2 separate regions of the Homo sapiens genome follow, and region 2 is linked to region 1. The links come from fine-mapping of genetic effects on gene expression. Tissue or cell type: whole blood. Region 1 holds a variant in brackets; the other region holds the start of a gene. All regions are shown on one strand. Distances are from middle to middle.

Region 1 (8,344 bases):
AAGAGAGAAGAATCAAATAGATGCAATAAAAAATGATAAAGGGGATATCACCACTGATCCCACAGAAATACAAACTACCATCAGAGAATACTATAAACACCTCTACGCAAATAAACTAGAAAATCTAGAAGAAATGGATAAATTCCTGGACACATACACCCTCCCAAGACTAAACCAGGAAGAAGTTGAATCCCTGAATACACCAATAACAGGTTCTGAAATTGAGGCAATAATAGCCTACCATCCAAAAAAAGTCCAGGACCAGATGGATTCACAGCCGAATTCTACCAGAGGTGCAAGGAGGAGCTGATACCATTCTTTCTGAAACTATTCCAATCAATAGAAAAAGTGGGAATCCTCCCTAACTCATTTTATGAGGCCAGCATCATCCTGATACCAAAGCCTGGCAGAGACACAACAAAGAAAGAGAATTTTAGACCAATATCCCTGGTGAACATCAATGCAAAAATCCTCAATAAAATACTGGCAAACCGAATCCAGCAGCACATCAAAAAGCTTATCCACCATGATCAAGTAGGCTTCATCCCTGGGATGCAAGCCTGGTTCAACATATGCAAATCAATAAATGTAATCCAGCATATAAACAGAACTAATGACAAAAACCACATGATTATCTCAATAGATACAGAAAAGGCCTTTGACAAAATTCAACAGCCCTTCATGCTAAAAACTCTCAATAAATTCGGTATTGATAGGACGTATCTCAAAATAATAAGAGCTATTTATGACAAACTCACAGCCAATATCACACTGAATGGGCAAAAACTGGAAGCATTCCCTTTGAAAACTGGCACAAGACAGGGATGCCCTCTCTCACCACTCCTATTCAACATAGTGTTGGAAGTTCTGGCCAGGGCAATCAGGCAGGAGAAAGAAATAAAGGGTATTCAATTAGGAAAAGAGGAAGTCAAATTGTCCCTGTTTGCAGATGACGTGATTGTATATTTAGAAAACCCCATCATCTCACCCCAAAATCTCCTTAAGCTGATAAGCAACTTCAGCAAAGTCTCAGGATACAAAATCAATGTGCAAAAATCACAAGCATTCTTATGCACCAATAGCAGACAAACAGAGAGCCAAATCATGAGTGAACTCCCATTCACAATTGCTTCAAAGAGAATAAAATACCTAGGAATCCAACTTACAAGGGATGTGAAGGACCTCTTCAAAGAGAACTATAAACCACTGCTCAACAAAATAAAAGAAGACACAAACAAATGGAAGAACATTCCACGCTCATGGATAGGAAGAATCAATATAGTGAAAATGGCCATACTGCCCAAGGTAATTTATAGATTCAATGCCATCCCCATCAAGCTACCAATGACTTTCTTCACAGAATTGGAAAAAACTACTTTGAAGTTCATATGGAACCAAAAAAGAGCCCACATTGCAAAGACAATCCTAAGCCAAAAGAACAAAGCTGGAGGCATCATGTTACCTGACTTCAAACTATACTACAAGGCTACAGTAACCAAAACAGCATGATACTGGTACCAAAACAGAGATATAGACCAATGGAACAGAACAGAGCCCTCAGAAACAATAATACACATCTACAACCATTTGATCTTTGACAAACCTGACAAAAACAAGAAATGGGGAAAGGATTCCCTATTTAATAAATGGTGCTGGGAAAACTGGCTAGCCACATGTAGAAAGCTGAAATTGGATCCCTTCCTTACACCTTATACAAAAATTAATTCAAGATGGATTGAAGACTTAAATGTAAGACCTAAAACCATAAAAAGCCTAGAAGAAAACCTAGGCAATACCATTCAGGACATAGGCATGGGCAAGGACTTCATGACTAAAACACCAAAAGCAATGGCAACAAAAGCCAAAATTGACAAATGGGATCTAATTAAACTAAAGAACTTCTGCACAGCAAAAGAAACTACCATCAGAGTGAACAGGCAACCTACGGAATGGGAGAAAATTTTTGCAATCTACTCATCTGACAAAGGGCTAATATCCAGAATCTACAAAGAACTCAAACAAATTTACATCATTTTATTTTTAATATCTTTGGGTCATTTTATTTTATATTGTCTCATAAACAGAATAGCATAATTTTGCATTTTAACCTAGTCCCAGAGGCTTTCCCCGCTCAGTTTTATCCATTTATATGTATTGACATAAGTATATTGTATTTGTTCTCATTTCTGGCTCTTTTGTTTTCATTTCCTTACTTTTCCTCCTCTTATATTAATACTATTGAGTTTTTCCTCAGCAAATGTCAAGACAGTGCTTGCAACCAATGTTTCAAATTTATACTTCATTTACTTTCTTTGGCTCTCTTATTCTTCCTGCTTTATGTAACAGGAAACAGATAAAGCCCACCACAAAAGCAATGTTAAGATAAAGTCAAACAAAAAAAGGGAAAACAGAAGCACTAGAAAGAGTTTCCTGCAGCCACAGACCAGTCACTGCACTTTATTGAAGTCCCCAGCTTTGGCAATATGGTTCAAGTGTAGGCTCCAAGACAGAGCTGGGGAGGGGCAGGCTCTTGCAGGACACTGGCTCCGAGGCATGCCTCCCCCACTGCCCTGTACCTGGACAAAAACGGGAAACATGGGAAACGACTCATTGTCTCTGAACCTCAAGCTGGAATTATGGTCTGTGTGTCCCAAGAAGATGGCTTTCTCAGCAGCATCTTTAAGCTCCTAGGGCCTTTGGCTCCTGTGTGTGAGGGAGGAAGGAGGCGATGGGCCCAGGGCCATAGGGTACCTCAGTCTTCAGTCCCCTTCTCTGCCATGGGGTCTGCAGTTTTGAACTACTGGAACGTGAATGCGTCTCTCGGTGGTGCTTCCCCACCTTGGAAACAGACCAGCCACGTACCAAGCTGGCGACGAGGGAGCACGGCACACACGTCTTCTCATTTTAGAAAGAAAAACAAAGTTAATTTATTTGAAAACTGTAGGTTTAGGAAAGAAAAATGCTAAGTGTTATGAGACCAGAAACCTGAAACACAGCCTTCAGAAGACCCTCCTGGGCCCAGCGGCCACCTTGACCTGCTGTTGGACCACCTCCCTATGGTTCGGCCAGCTGCCAGACCTTTGGGATCCGGGATCTTTGCTCTGGGATCTTCGCTGGCCTCGCATGGATGGGACACATCACTTTACCTTTATAGTCCCAGAAATTCATGACACTGGCAGAGAACCCCTTCCCTGCTCTCCAGAGCCCAGGCCCCTCTCCTCTGCCCCAAAGCTTCACCTGACGGAGGCTGTACTGCTAGTCTCCTGGATATCTCAATCTGGTTTAAATATTAACTCGCAAAATTTCTCAAACATTTTAAAGGAAGGATTTCAATTTTCCATCCTCCTTACCCCTTCAAGTCATTTATCCCTAACTCCAAAATGAGAAGATAATAATTTTGTACCTGTTTCTACTGAAGGATTTATATAAGATTATCCAACAAAACCCACTGGCCATCCTGGCACTTCCTGGAGCCCCCAGCTAACTGGAAGTATGCATTGCTCTAATTTAGTGCCCCAACCCCAATAACTCCTGCACATGAGAAAGAAGCAAAAATTAAACAAACACAAATGATCTCCAGGAGCAAAATTAGCTGTTTAAATAATCGGCTGACTCAGTGCAGGTTGACACAGGACACACAATGGATGTGAGTTGGCTTTGAGCTCCTTGGCCTCCAACCATCATCTCGGACAAAAGCTCAGCCTCGGGGAGCCCCATTCTCGCTTCTAAAGATGGGACAGGAACCACCTCCTGGACCTCACGTCAGGGTTAAGTGAATAACATTTGCAAAAATGACTGTGAAAGTGACTCACACTTGGCTGGGCATGGTGGCTCATGCCTGTAATCCCAGCACTTCGGGAGGCCGAGACAGGCGGATCACGATTTCAGGAGATCGAGACCATCCTGGCCAACATGGTGAAACCCCGTCTCTACTAAAAATACAAAAATTAGCTGAGTGTAGTGGCGTGCGCCTGTAGTCCCAGCTACTCAGGAGGCTGAGGCAGGAGGATCGCTTGAACCAGGGAGGCGGAGGTTGCAGTGAGCCGACATCGCGCCACTGCACTCCAGCTTAGGCGACAGAGCGAGACTAC[G/A]TCTCAAAAAAACAAAAAAACAAAAAAAGTGACTCACACTTACTTGGCAAAAGATAAATTTGAGTTTCTTTCCTTTTTCCTCCTGAAGGCCCTTTACCATCCAGCAACAAGCCAACATGGCTCAGTTTACTGATTCCGGGAAAAGTACTTTGCTGCATTTCAGAAAGATGTTTAACAACAAAACTGACAAAAGGTTATCTGATTATTTGAATAGAGATTTCTCCCAACAGGATATACAAATGGCCAATAAGTGCATGAGAAGATGTTCAATGTTATTAGTAAATGCAAATGAAGACCACAGTGAGATGTCACTTGCAGCCACTAACTTGTCTGCAATCAAAAGGTAGATTACAATAAGGATGTGGAGAAACTGGAACCCTCATAGGCTGCTGGTAGGGGTAAACAGTGGTATGTATACATATGTAACAAACCTGCACATTGTGCACATGTACCCTAGAACTTAAAGTGTAATAAAAAAAAAAGGAAATGAAATAAAAGGTACACAAACTTAAAATGAAAAGAAAAAAAAAGAGTGGTGCAGCCACTTTGGAAAACAGTTTGGTAGTTCATCAAAAAGTTAAACAGTTACCAAATCACCCAGCAACTCCACTCCTAGGTCTATATTCGAGAGACTTGAAAACATACATTCATGCAAAAACCCATACACTGATGTTCATAGCAGCACAGTTCACAATGACCAAGAGGTGTAAACAACCCAAATGTCTATCAACTGATGAACAGATAAAACGTGGTATAGCCATAGAATGGAATATTATTCTACCATAAAAAGGAATGATACTAGTTACAGAATGGATAAACCTTAAAGACATTATTATGTTCCGTGAAAAAGCTGGATACTAAATGCCGCATGTTGTCTGATCCCTTTTATATGAAATGTCCAGAATAGGCACATTCAAAGAGACAAAAAGTAATCAGTGGTTGTCGGGGCTGGGGGAAGGGAAATTGGGGAGTGATCCCAAAGGAGTTTGATTTTTGGAGGGGGAGGTGATGAAGATGTTCTGAAATTATATTGTGACAATAGTTGCACAACTCTGAATATACCAAAACACACTAAAATATACACTATAAAGGGGTATAGAATTGTATCTAAATAAAGCTGTTATTTTAAAAATTGTATGTTTAATTCTAAGTAAAGACTTGTCAATGAGTTGAAATATTCCATTTCCCAAGTAAGTTGATAGTTTCTTGTTCTTGCCTAAGAAAGCGTTAGTTTCAAATATGTATTTTAAATCCAGCAGGAAGTGAAACTGGATTAGCAAGCGCACAGCCAAGCCTGGACCCTAAAAGAGAAGTGAGGAAGGGTAAGGATTCAGAACACAAATCCAGAAAGAAGACAAGTGTGATGAGGGAGTCACAAGGAAGACCCACAAGGCCAGCCATGAGCTCCCCCAGGCTAACACAGCCAGCGGTCTCAGGGCAGTGTGGGGAATCAGCCTTGCCCAGGGCCGGGGCCAGGGCAGCCCCGCTGTCTTCCTCTCTTCACTGTTATCACAGCCGGAGCAGCTGTGAAGTGCCCAGGAGGCAGCTCCTCAAACGGTGTTTCAACAATGTGCCCGAGCAGATGACGCAGCAAAACTATTTTCTGTGCTTCTTGGACTCTGATAACTGGAAACAAACTATGCAGAGTCATGTTAGGAGGTGAGGGTTTGAATTAGATTGTTTTCTCTAGCTATGAAGACTTATTCTGTTACTGTATTTTGAGCTGTGGTGGATTTGTCTATAATTCCTAGGTGGATTTTTAACTTACCTTAAAAGCTCTGTGATTGTTCCTTTAACAAATATCTAAATAAATCAGATTAAAATTTTTGAACGTGATGAAACTACAGCTTGACTCCAGAATACATAACCTAAGATATAAAAAAGACCCAGAGGGCCAGGCACGATGGCTCACGCCTGTAATCCCAGCACTTTGAGGGGCCGAGGTGGGCGGATCACAAGGTGAGGAGTTCGAGACCAGCCTGACCAACATGGTGAAACCCCATCTCTACTAAAAATACAAAGAAGTTAGCCAGGCATGGTGGCGGGCACCTGTAATCCCAGCTACTCAGAAGGCTGAGGCAGGAGAATCGCTTGAACCTGGGAGATGGAGGTTGCAGTGAGCCGAGAACGCGCCACTGCACTCCAACCGGGGCGACAGAGCAAGACTCCATCTCAAAAAAAAAAAAAAAAAGAAAGAAAAAAGAAAAGAAAAGAAAAGAAAAAAGGACCCAGAGAGTCTCGGTTGGAGACATCAAGGGTATGTCTGAGAGCCCTTGGGATCTGCTTAGTTCTCTATCAGCCCCAGGTAAGATCCCGCCTAAGCTGTTCCACAACAATGAACATCAGCCCATGGGCAATGCCTTTTAAAAATGAGTTAAAAGACTCACACACACCTTCATTCATTCAACAGAACTCTGCATATGTAGTCTCAGCCTCATGGAGCTGATAGCTAGCCCCTCAGAAATGTCACGGTCCCTAACTACTCTTTGCTATTTATTTATTTATTATTTTTATTTTATTTATTTATTTTTTGAGATGGATGGGATTACAGGCACATGCACCACCACTCCCAGCTAATTTTTGTATTTTTAGTAGAGACGGGGTTTCACCATGTTGACCAGGCTGGTCTTGAATGCCTGACCTCAGGTGATCTGTCTGCCTTGGCCTCCCAAAGTACTCTTTGCTATTTTTAACCTATATTATAGATTTAAATTTTTGTTTTGTTTTGTTTGAATGAAAATAAGAAGATAATTTCAGGCTGGGCATGGTATCGCACACCTACATTCCCAGCAGTTTGGGAGGCCAAGGTGGGAGGGTCGCATGAGCCCAGGAATTCAAGACCAGCCTGGGCCACATGATGAGACCCCGTCTCTACCAAAAAAAAAAAAAAAAAAAAAAAGAAGCAGCAGCTAATTTCATTCCTTATTTCATTCCTTTATGCACAAGCCCCTTTAAAATACACTTGACATGAATAGCAGAGCTTGCCTCCGGCTCCTCCATGCAGAATTCGGCAATCCCAGGTTCCTCACCGCTCCTCAGGGTGGACCTTCCATTGACAGTGTTTAAAATCACAGACTGTGGGGTCAGACAGGCCTGGATGTGGATTCTGGGTCTCCTGCTGATCCCCCGAGTGGACCTCCCGAAGCCTCTCCTGTGCAGCAGGTGGTGCTGGAGCCTGAGATGCCGGCATCGGGCCGGGAGGAGCTGGGCCTCTGCCCACTGCAGCCATGACCTCTCCAGGCAGCCCCGCCCCCCTGTGTCGTGAAGCGCAACTGGGCACAGGACCTCCATTAACAGTCCACGTCTGTGCTAAACTTGATGGAAAAAATGGCCTCTCCATAGCGATTTGTGTCCTTGGTTTGCAAGCCTCGAATTTGCACCTCCTTTTCGAGGTGGCAGTTTAGGGTTGACTCTGGCAGCATTTTCCGAATGTGCCTGCCTGTGTGTCCCCACCTTGTTCCACCCCACAAGGGTTGTGCTGTAGGAGTCCTGGCCTCTGCCAGCCCTCCCTGATGGGCCCTAATGCAATGAACGTCAAAGGATCTATCACAAAACTAGAAAGGCTGCTGTCTGGTCCTGAGAACATTGTTCTCTTTTCAATCTCTCTTTCCAGAGAGCAAACAGTTTATAAAGACTGACAAATTGCTACACATAGTCAAGAAGTAGACAAAATCTTGCCATTACACAGAAGAGCCATAATGTCAGCTCTTTTCCCTTCTGGACTTTGCTCAGAGAGTCAGTGGACAAATGAGCATCCTGCCAGCAGCCTTAGTGTAAAAACCAGCCACCCACAAGCTCTGATGACCTGAAAAGTCAAGTACCAGGTGCATTTTCAGATCCAGAGATGTGTCTGTCCCATGTTACTCTGGGTATCAAATTAATTGAAACCTATAGAACTTTGAAATGCTTTAAAACCATCATAAATATAATGGATGGAGCAGTGAGGACAGAAGCCTGTCTATCCTGTGTGAGGTGGGCACACAGGAAATACGTGTTAAATATAGAAAGGAAGAAAATAAAGGAGGGAGAGAAGAAGGGAGAAGGGAAAAGAAGGTAGAAAAGTAGTCCTATAGTGGAAGAGGAGGGGAAGAGACAGAAGGAGGAGGAGGAGGACAGAGGAGGGAGGGGGAGGGGGAAGGGCTAGGGAGGGGAGGAGAAGTGAGGGGGGAAAGGGGAGGGGAGGAAGGGGAGGGGGGAGGGGGGAGGGGAAGGGGAGGGAGGGGGAGGGAAAGGGGGAGGGGAGGGAGGGGGAG
Region 2 (8,000 bases), 59 kb after region 1:
CTAAATTTTCTGATAGATGGTATTGGGGAAATTGCTGCAGCCTGAGGGGGTCGAGACAAAGGCACGCATCGACGCTGGTCCCTCAGGGCACCATCATGTGACCAAAATGCACAGGGTCCTCGCTGAGGACAGGCTGCAGCAGGTAGGTTGGCTGTCCATCCACACCACCCTCTTAACCAAAAAGCTGCAGCCTCTGCATCATCAAGCCTTCCCCGGGTTGCAGTAAGCATCTGATGAGGTGACAGAGTTAGAAAACAGTTGATTCTGCTAATTTGTTGTCCAGCTTAATGGTGGTTTTGGTGGAAGAACCAATTAATCCCTGAAGCTTCCTGCCCTGCCGTTTTCTGTGACGTCACTGCTGTCTTAAAACTATAACTAAATATTAGTCATATTAAAAAAAAACTATAGGCTGGGCGCAGTGGCTCACGCCTGTAATCCTAGCACTATGGGAGGCTGAGGCGGGCGGATCACGAGGTCAGGAGATTGAGACCCTCCTGGCTAACACGGTGAAACCCCGTCTCTACTAAAAATACAAAAAATTAGCCGGGTGTAGTGGTGGGTGCCTGTAGTCCCAGCTACTCAGGAGGCTGAGACAGGAGAATGGTGTGAACCTGGGAGGCGGAGCCTGCAGTGAGCTGAGATTGCGCCACTGCACTCCAGCCTGGGTGACAGAGCGAGACTCCATCTCAAAAAAAAAAAAAAACAAAAAACACAACTATAGCTAAATAATAGTCATATAAAATAAATTGCAGTACTTATCAAATTTCAGTTTAACTTTTGAAAGTCATAGTATTTAAGGTAACAAACTCAGCTATTAACACATTTTATGATGCTTTAAAAAGCTCAAAGAATTGAACAGCTATTGGTGCTAAGTTATAATTGTGTTCTATAAAATAAATGTGATTCACTATTCTTTGTAATTGCTACCTCCTGGTATGTATAAGATAAAGAAATTGAATTTTACCTATTTTCTCACATACTAATTTGGTGACGTATCCTTTTAACTGTTGGCAAATGTTATAGGCTCTCTTGGCCTGTTTTTTATTCCATTATTTTAACATCTTTTGCAGTTTTCTCACATAAGATTGAAAACTGAATCTATGTGAAATAAGCAGGTGTCTATCAGTAATGATATTTAAAATATGTCACAGCTGGATTCCCTGTTTTGTAGGAGCATCTGAAATCAGCCATAGCGGAACAGATGGAAATGCCCCATTTGTTGGGGTCAAGAAGGAAAAGTTCTTACATAGTTTTACACATTTGGCTGGTGATTGATTTTGTGAAAAGATATGTTAAAATTTGTTTGTTTTTTGAGACGGAGGCTCACTGTGTTGCCCTGGCTGGAGTGCAGTGGCGTGATATCGGCTCACTGCAACCTCTGCCTCTCGGACTCAAGCAATCCTCCTGTCTCAGCCTACTGAGTAGCTGGGATTACAGGCTCCTGCCACCACACCCAGCTAATTTTTGTATTTTTAGTAGAGACGGGGTTTCACCATGTTGGCCAGGCTGATCTCAAACTCCTGACGTCAAATGATGCACCTGCTTCAGCTTCTGAAAGTGCTGGGATTACAGGCTTGAGCCACAGCGCCCGGTCTGAAAAGATACGTTTAAAAATTTTATTTTAAAAAGGTGCTACAAGACAATTCTACTAAATCTCTAATCTTTAAACTTTTTTTTAACCTCTTCACTGAGATTAGGAAAAGAATCTTGATATGACTCCTAGGTGATAACTGTATAAACAGACAACACCCCCACTCTTCATCATTCTAATAAAGAGAGAGGATTATATGCTTCATTTGTTTAAAGTCCTTTATTCAAACTCTCCTACTACTAACATCAGAGGACATGTTACTCTACTTTTTCATAAAAACAAACTTGTGTAGTTATTAGAAAGCATCTATTCACGGCATCATTAACAAATTAGGCATTATACAGAAGTGAATTTTCCAGGCAACTGAGGTGCTGCCTTAAACACAAAACTTTTTATCTTAACCTATCTGAAGTGTATTCCCTGTATTTCTACCTTCTGAAGCAGAACAATGATAGCATTCATTTCTTGAGGATCCCCAGGTGTTAACTCTAGTAAATCTTTTAAGGAGGGCTTTGTTCCCCTTCATACTGATGAGGGTCTAGCACTGTTGTATGGTGCATTGAAGACTAGCATTCAGACCCCATCCTGTCTCCATTCATCATGGTGAAAGTCAGGTATCGCGCTGGAAGTTAATGCAGTAATACATTTAGAGACCATGAGTTACCCCACGCTAAATTAGACTCAAACTAATGCGTTTTCATGTTTTCATTTTTAAATGGCTTTTCTGTCTCTCTGTCAGGCATCATGTATGCCTCCCCTGTCTTGAGTTGGGGCTAAAAAATCAAGTGACTGAACTTAAGGTAATTATTTTTAAAACAACTAAAATGAAAGTATTATATTAATAAAGTGCTGAGTTTTTTACATTTATTTTTCCTGCCAGAGCAAAAAAAAAAAAAAAACCATTTAGTTTTCTCATTGATCACTGTTAGAATTTTTCTGGTTTCTGTAAGTGAATGTCAAAAGGTTCAGACACTTGAGTAAGCTGTAATTCGGATCAGCAGCAGTGTTAACACCAGTGTTTAGGCCTCTGAGAGTAAAAACAATGTGTCGTACTGCCAAGTATTGTTCCTGTTACTACCCAATTCTTCAGTATCTCAGGACACAGTTTATCCTAAAAAGGTGTCCTGTTTGCTAACTACAGTGGCTGTGTTATCGTTAAAGGAAATACTGGGAAGTGTTACGGTCACCAGCTTCAAGTCACTGTCATCTACCAATGAGATAGGGGCTACCAAGTAAAATGTAGCCCAGGGCCACATTCACAGATGGAAGTGTTCAGTTAAGCAAAAGTAAAGTTACATACTAAAAGCCCACATGAAGAAGGATTTGGAGATATTTCTTCCTGCTTTGCTTTGGCTGTAAAGTTCTGTACATGTATCAAACAGAGCATTTCAACAGGCTGGCTAATGTGTAGGAAGCTAGCTTTTCTTTGTGATATAATTTGTCATGTAAAATCATAAGCTATTTTACAAGTGTATTTCATTCACTGTATCTTAAAATTCATATGGTTTTATTTAAAGATAATTTCATCAAACAGCTGAATTCTAAAATCCTACCTTTTTTTCAAAATCATTTTTCAGAACTTTGCAATAACAGGAAGTAAAGAATCAGAAGGGTGTTAAAAAATTGACTTGGGGGGAAAAACATTTGGACATTTTGCTGGCTAGGTTTACGAAATATACACATCCAGCAAACATGTGAGTCCCTTTAGGGTACAGTGCAGTGAAGGGAGAAGTGGAAATACTCAAGGTTCTGGGGAAGGTCAAATGAAGGGTCCCTCACATTGGCTGAGGCCAACCTGGCTTCAGAGGTGTGCAGAGGCACCAGGCCGAGAACAGGGCTTTGCAGTGGTGAGGGCAAAACATGAACACAAGAAATACCCTAAGTTACTGACCTGGTTGTGCCTGGTGACAGATGGGACCAGCTCTTTTCTCCATTTGGTAATTTTGGAAAATTTGGCAGAGTTAATAAAGAAATCCCCTTGGTGCAAGATTGCTACAATAAGAATCTATTATAGATGGCAGATGTGAAGTTCACAGTCCTTTTTATTATCCTAACCTAGTAACATGACTAGAGGTAAAATTAAATATTGAGTTAGATGATTGTTTAATATTTTAAAACCAGAGGGAAGACATACAAATAGATTGAGAGCAGTTTCTTTCTAAAGATAATCAGAATATATCTCCTATATTTTAAACACTGCAGGAACAGTCAAAATTTTAAAATAAATGGTTTCCACATTTTTTTATCCCCATCTCTCCCCCTGACTATATAGTAAAATATTTTATTTGGCAACCACGTTTTCCTACTTTTAATCACACATCATCAGAGCTTTTCATCAGCCTAACTAGTCTTCCTACTCACTGAGTTGTGACGAAAGCCTGGTCTAGGCACTTTTACCACGGCCATGTTTTTGTTAAGATCCCTGCAGACTGTGAACTATGAAAACCAGCCCCTGGCCCCGCTTGTGGGTGCTGCAGAGCCGCGTGTGAACTGCTCCTAGGAAACCGCGTCTCTGGGCAGGGTGGCTCTCGGGCCGTGGATCCGCCTAAAAGCTTTTCTGCCAGTGACGCCCTTGGTCTCTGGATGTGTTCACGCCTCAGTGATTTTACTCTCTGGTTTCTTGTGTGTGCTTGAGATTCTTGAGAGAAAGCGTGCTGCAGATGAAAAATGCAGCCTACATGAAAAAGAGAAGGGGAAAGCCATTTTAAAATAACTTCCATGTAAGTTACTGTAATCAAAGTGCTGCTGCCTGTGTGTTCATAAAAAAATATGTGCAAGGGCCCGGAGCGGTGGCTCATGCCTGTAATCCCAGCACTTTGGGAGGCCGAGGTGGGCGGATCACTTGAGGTCAGGAGTTACCGAGACCATCCTGGCCAACAAGGTGAAACCCCGTCTCTACTTTAAAAAAACAAAAAAATTAGCCAGGGGTGGTGGCGCGTGCCTGTAGGTCCCAGCCACTCAGGAGGCTGAGGCAGAGGCTGCAGTGAGCCGAGATCGCGCCACTGCACTCCGGTCTGGGCGACAGAGCGAGACTGTCTCCAAAAAAATTAAGAATTCAAATGTGAACCCGGCTTTCATGGCGCCCCGGCCACGGAGAGCCTGGGGGAGTGGGATAAAAACGGTGCTGGGATGGGAGGGCGGCTTGTCCGCGAACTCCTCCCACCACGCCCGGACCAAAGCCGCCGGCGCCCCGCTTCCGGGGCCGCCCTAAACCGCGGCCGCCGCTCCCTGAGGGGCCGCCTGACCCGGCGGAAAGCCAGGCTGTGTGGCCGGAGGTCACCACCCCGACCCCGACTAGTCCCGCAGCGCCTGACCCCTTCGTGGGCGGCCCCGACCGCCGCGGCTCGAGGAGGGGCGGGGCTGGGGCGGCCGAGCTCTCGCGAGGTTTCGTCGGGGGCTGGCGGCTGCGGCTCGGCGGAGAGTGCGGCATGCGCTCGGAAAAGGAGGGGGCCGGAGGCCTTCGGGCGGCCGTTGCCGCGCGGGGCCCGAGCGGGAGGGAGAAGCTGTCGGCCCTAGAAGTGCAGTTCCACCGCGACTCGCAGCAGCAGGAGGCTGAGACGCCGCCAACTTCGTCCTCCGGTTGCGGGGGCGGTGCGGGCAAACCTCGCGAGGAGAAGAGGACGGCCCTGAGCAAGGTGGGGACGGGGGCGGGGCGCGCAAACCTCGCGAGGAGAGGACGGCCCTGAGTGGAGGGAGGGGAGGGAGGGGAGGGAGGGGCGGGGGCCGGGCCTCCCAGCGCGGTACGCGGTGCCTTTTGAGCTCCTTGTCCACGCTCCGCCCCGGTGGGAACGGCCGCGCGCTCCCCGCAGGTGGTCATCCGCCGCCTGCCTCCGGGCCTCACCAAGGAGCAGCTGGAGGAGCAGCTGCGCCCGCTGCCAGCACACGACTACTTCGAGTTCTTCGCCGCCGACCTGAGGTGAGGCCCGCCCCGAGGGGAGGAAGAGAGGGCGGAACCCAGAGCTCGGCGGCGGTGGCCGTCTCGTTGCCTTACGTTCCTTACCCTGATTTCTCCTATATGGGAGTCGTGTGAGCTTTTTGAATAAATACATTTCAGTAAAACGTGTCCGTTCCGTCAAAGAAAAATACCACCAACAAAGAAACACAGATGTGGTTTACATGAAAAATGCGGATGATTTTCAGACGGCTAACGCTTAGGAAAGCGGGTGCCTTTGAAAGGACCAGCGTTGCCCGCCCGGCGCCTCCCGGGCTTCCCTGCTCGTCCGCGGACGGGGCGCTGCGGGGCCGGGGGGCGCCGGCTCTTCCTGTGGCCTCCACGCTGGTGCCGCAGCCAGTGCGGTTTTAAATACCGGAGAAGGTCCCCAAGTCAGGAGAGTCTCTCGGCGCCACGGGTTCCTCTGGGAGTGCGCCCTGGCCTTGCCTTAGGGTTTCAGCCTCGGAGGACCGGTTCTGGGCAGTGGAGAAGGGACCTGAGTTCTGCCTTGTAAAGTTAACGTTTTGCGTTTGTTTTTGCTAAAGAATATCCAAGTTGTTACAATTAACTGAGATGATTTGGCACAAAAGTTTTATCTAAAGTAGTTTGTTGTGCCCAGAAAAGGAAAAAGAGGCTAAATTAATGGACTATTGTATTTTTCACTGACCATTTTCACTGTTATCTCTTATTTCAGTCTTTATCCTCATCTCTACTCAAGAGCATACATTAATTTTAGGAATCCTGATGACATCCTTCTTTTTAGAGATCGTTTTGATGGATATATCTTCCTTGACAGCAAAGGTTGGATTATTGGTTTTTAAAAATCTATTATAATCTGTAGGTATACTAATGAAGTATTGCTAGAATATTCGTGCTTTTTAAATTATTATTATTTTTTGAGACAGGGTCTTGCTCTGTTGCCCAGGCTGGAGTGCAGCAGCCGCAATCACGGCTCACTGCAGCCTCACACTGCGGCTCAAGCAATCCTCCAGCCTCCTAGGTAGCAGGGACCACAGGCGTGTGCCACCATGATCGGCTGATTTAAAAAAAAAATTGTGTAGAGACGGGGGTCTCACTGTGTTGCCCAGGCTGGTCTTGAACTCCTGGCTTCAAGTGATCCTCCCACCTCAGCCTCCCAAAGTGCTGGGATTACAGGCGTGAGCCACAGCATCCGGTCTATTTGTGCATTTTAATTAAAAAGTTCTCAGACTAAAATAAGTTTATAAATTTTGATTATGTTACTGTAATTATGTGCAGATATTAAAAATTGAAATTATTTAATTTTATTATTTAATCCAAAAAAATTCCAGAAATTCTGTGTAATAGTGACAGCCTATTTATGTATTATCATCAGAGAATGAAGGTTTTCATGAGTGAGTTTGTTGCATGAGAGAACTTGATCTTTTTAGGTTCTAAAGCTAAACTATTTTACCTGATAGGAATTTTCCAAAATGTACACTGACTTCTATCTTCCTAAACAGCATCCTTCATGACTGTACCATTTATGATAATGTCACCAGGAAGTCACTGCTGTTAAACAGCTTTGCCTGCGGAGACAGCAGTCTTCAACTCTACTCTCAATAGTTCCCTTATCAGTACTTCTAGGGTTCTGCTTTCATCTTTTTCCTTCTCTTCTCCTGTCAGGCTGTCTGCTGTTGTGTTCCTGGCTGTCAAGTTTGTATACCTTTCACAGCAAGTTGTTTTCTGCCCTCCCCTCCCCAGCCACCCTCTTCCGACTCCACGTGTTTTGACACTGATGAGTGTTTTCTTTTTCTCCAATGAGGGGTAAGGACTAGAAAGATTGTTAAAAAAATAAGCATTAGCCAAGCTAGTTCCTGTGACTAGAAGCAAATGTGATGCTTGAACTGACCTTTGTGTTCATTGCTCATTTATTCAGTAACTTACTGAGTTTCCCTTTTTCACTTAAAAAATATTGGTGGGCCGGGCACAGTGGCTCACACCTGTAATCCCAGCACTTTAGGAGGCCAAGGCGGGTGGATCACGAGGTCAGGAGTTCGAGACCGGCCTGAGCAACAACGTGAAACCCTGTCTCTACTAAAAATACAAAAATTAGCCAGGCATGGTGGCAGGCGCCTGTAGTCCCAGCTACTCGGAAGACTGAGACAGGAGAATTGCTTGAACCTGGGAGGCGGAGGTTGCAGTGAGCCGAGATCATGCCACTGCATCCCAGCCGGGGCGACGGAGCAAAAAAATATGTATGTGTATGTACGTGTATGTATATGTGTGTGTGTGTGTAAAATATGTGTAACATGGCCAGGTGTGATGGCTCACTCCTGTAATCCCAGCACTTTGGGAGGCCGAGGAATGTAGATCAGTTGAGGTCAGGGGTTCGAGACCAGCCTGGCCAAGATGGTGAAACCCTGTCTCTACTAAAAAAAAAAAAAAATTAGCCAGGCATCATGAGGCATGCCTGTAATCTCAGATACTTGGGAGACTGAGGCATGAGACTCACTTGAA

The links. PIP is the estimated chance that this variant, and not a neighbour inherited with it, causes the effect.
Region 2: it holds the start of UPF3A, and the variant in region 1 is fine-mapped to the expression of UPF3A in whole blood (TOPMed, PIP above 0.99).

What each region holds. Positions count from the first base shown.
Region 1 is chr13:114,217,151-114,225,494 of GRCh38, forward strand. CFAP97D2 (CFAP97 domain containing 2) reads left to right here. Exons shown (of 4, transcript NM_001395229.1): 4 at 5,351-5,935. The coding sequence ends at 5,357. Among named protein-coding and RNA genes, the nearest start is that of CDC16, 14 kb to the right of the region's middle. The variant G/A (reference allele first, on the strand shown) is at 4,092.
Region 2 is chr13:114,276,621-114,284,620 of GRCh38, forward strand. It overlaps UPF3A (UPF3A regulator of nonsense mediated mRNA decay), which reads left to right and starts at 4,981. Exons shown (of 10, transcript NM_023011.4): 1 at 4,981-5,226; 2 at 5,401-5,507; 3 at 6,217-6,323. The coding sequence starts at 5,020. LOC105370384 (a long non-coding RNA gene) reads right to left here and starts at 4,449. Exons shown (of 4, transcript XR_007063887.1): 1 at 3,483-4,449. RefSeq lists enhancers at 4,209-4,508, 4,962-5,649 and silencers at 4,729-4,998, 5,229-5,408, 5,789-5,998, 7,616-7,812.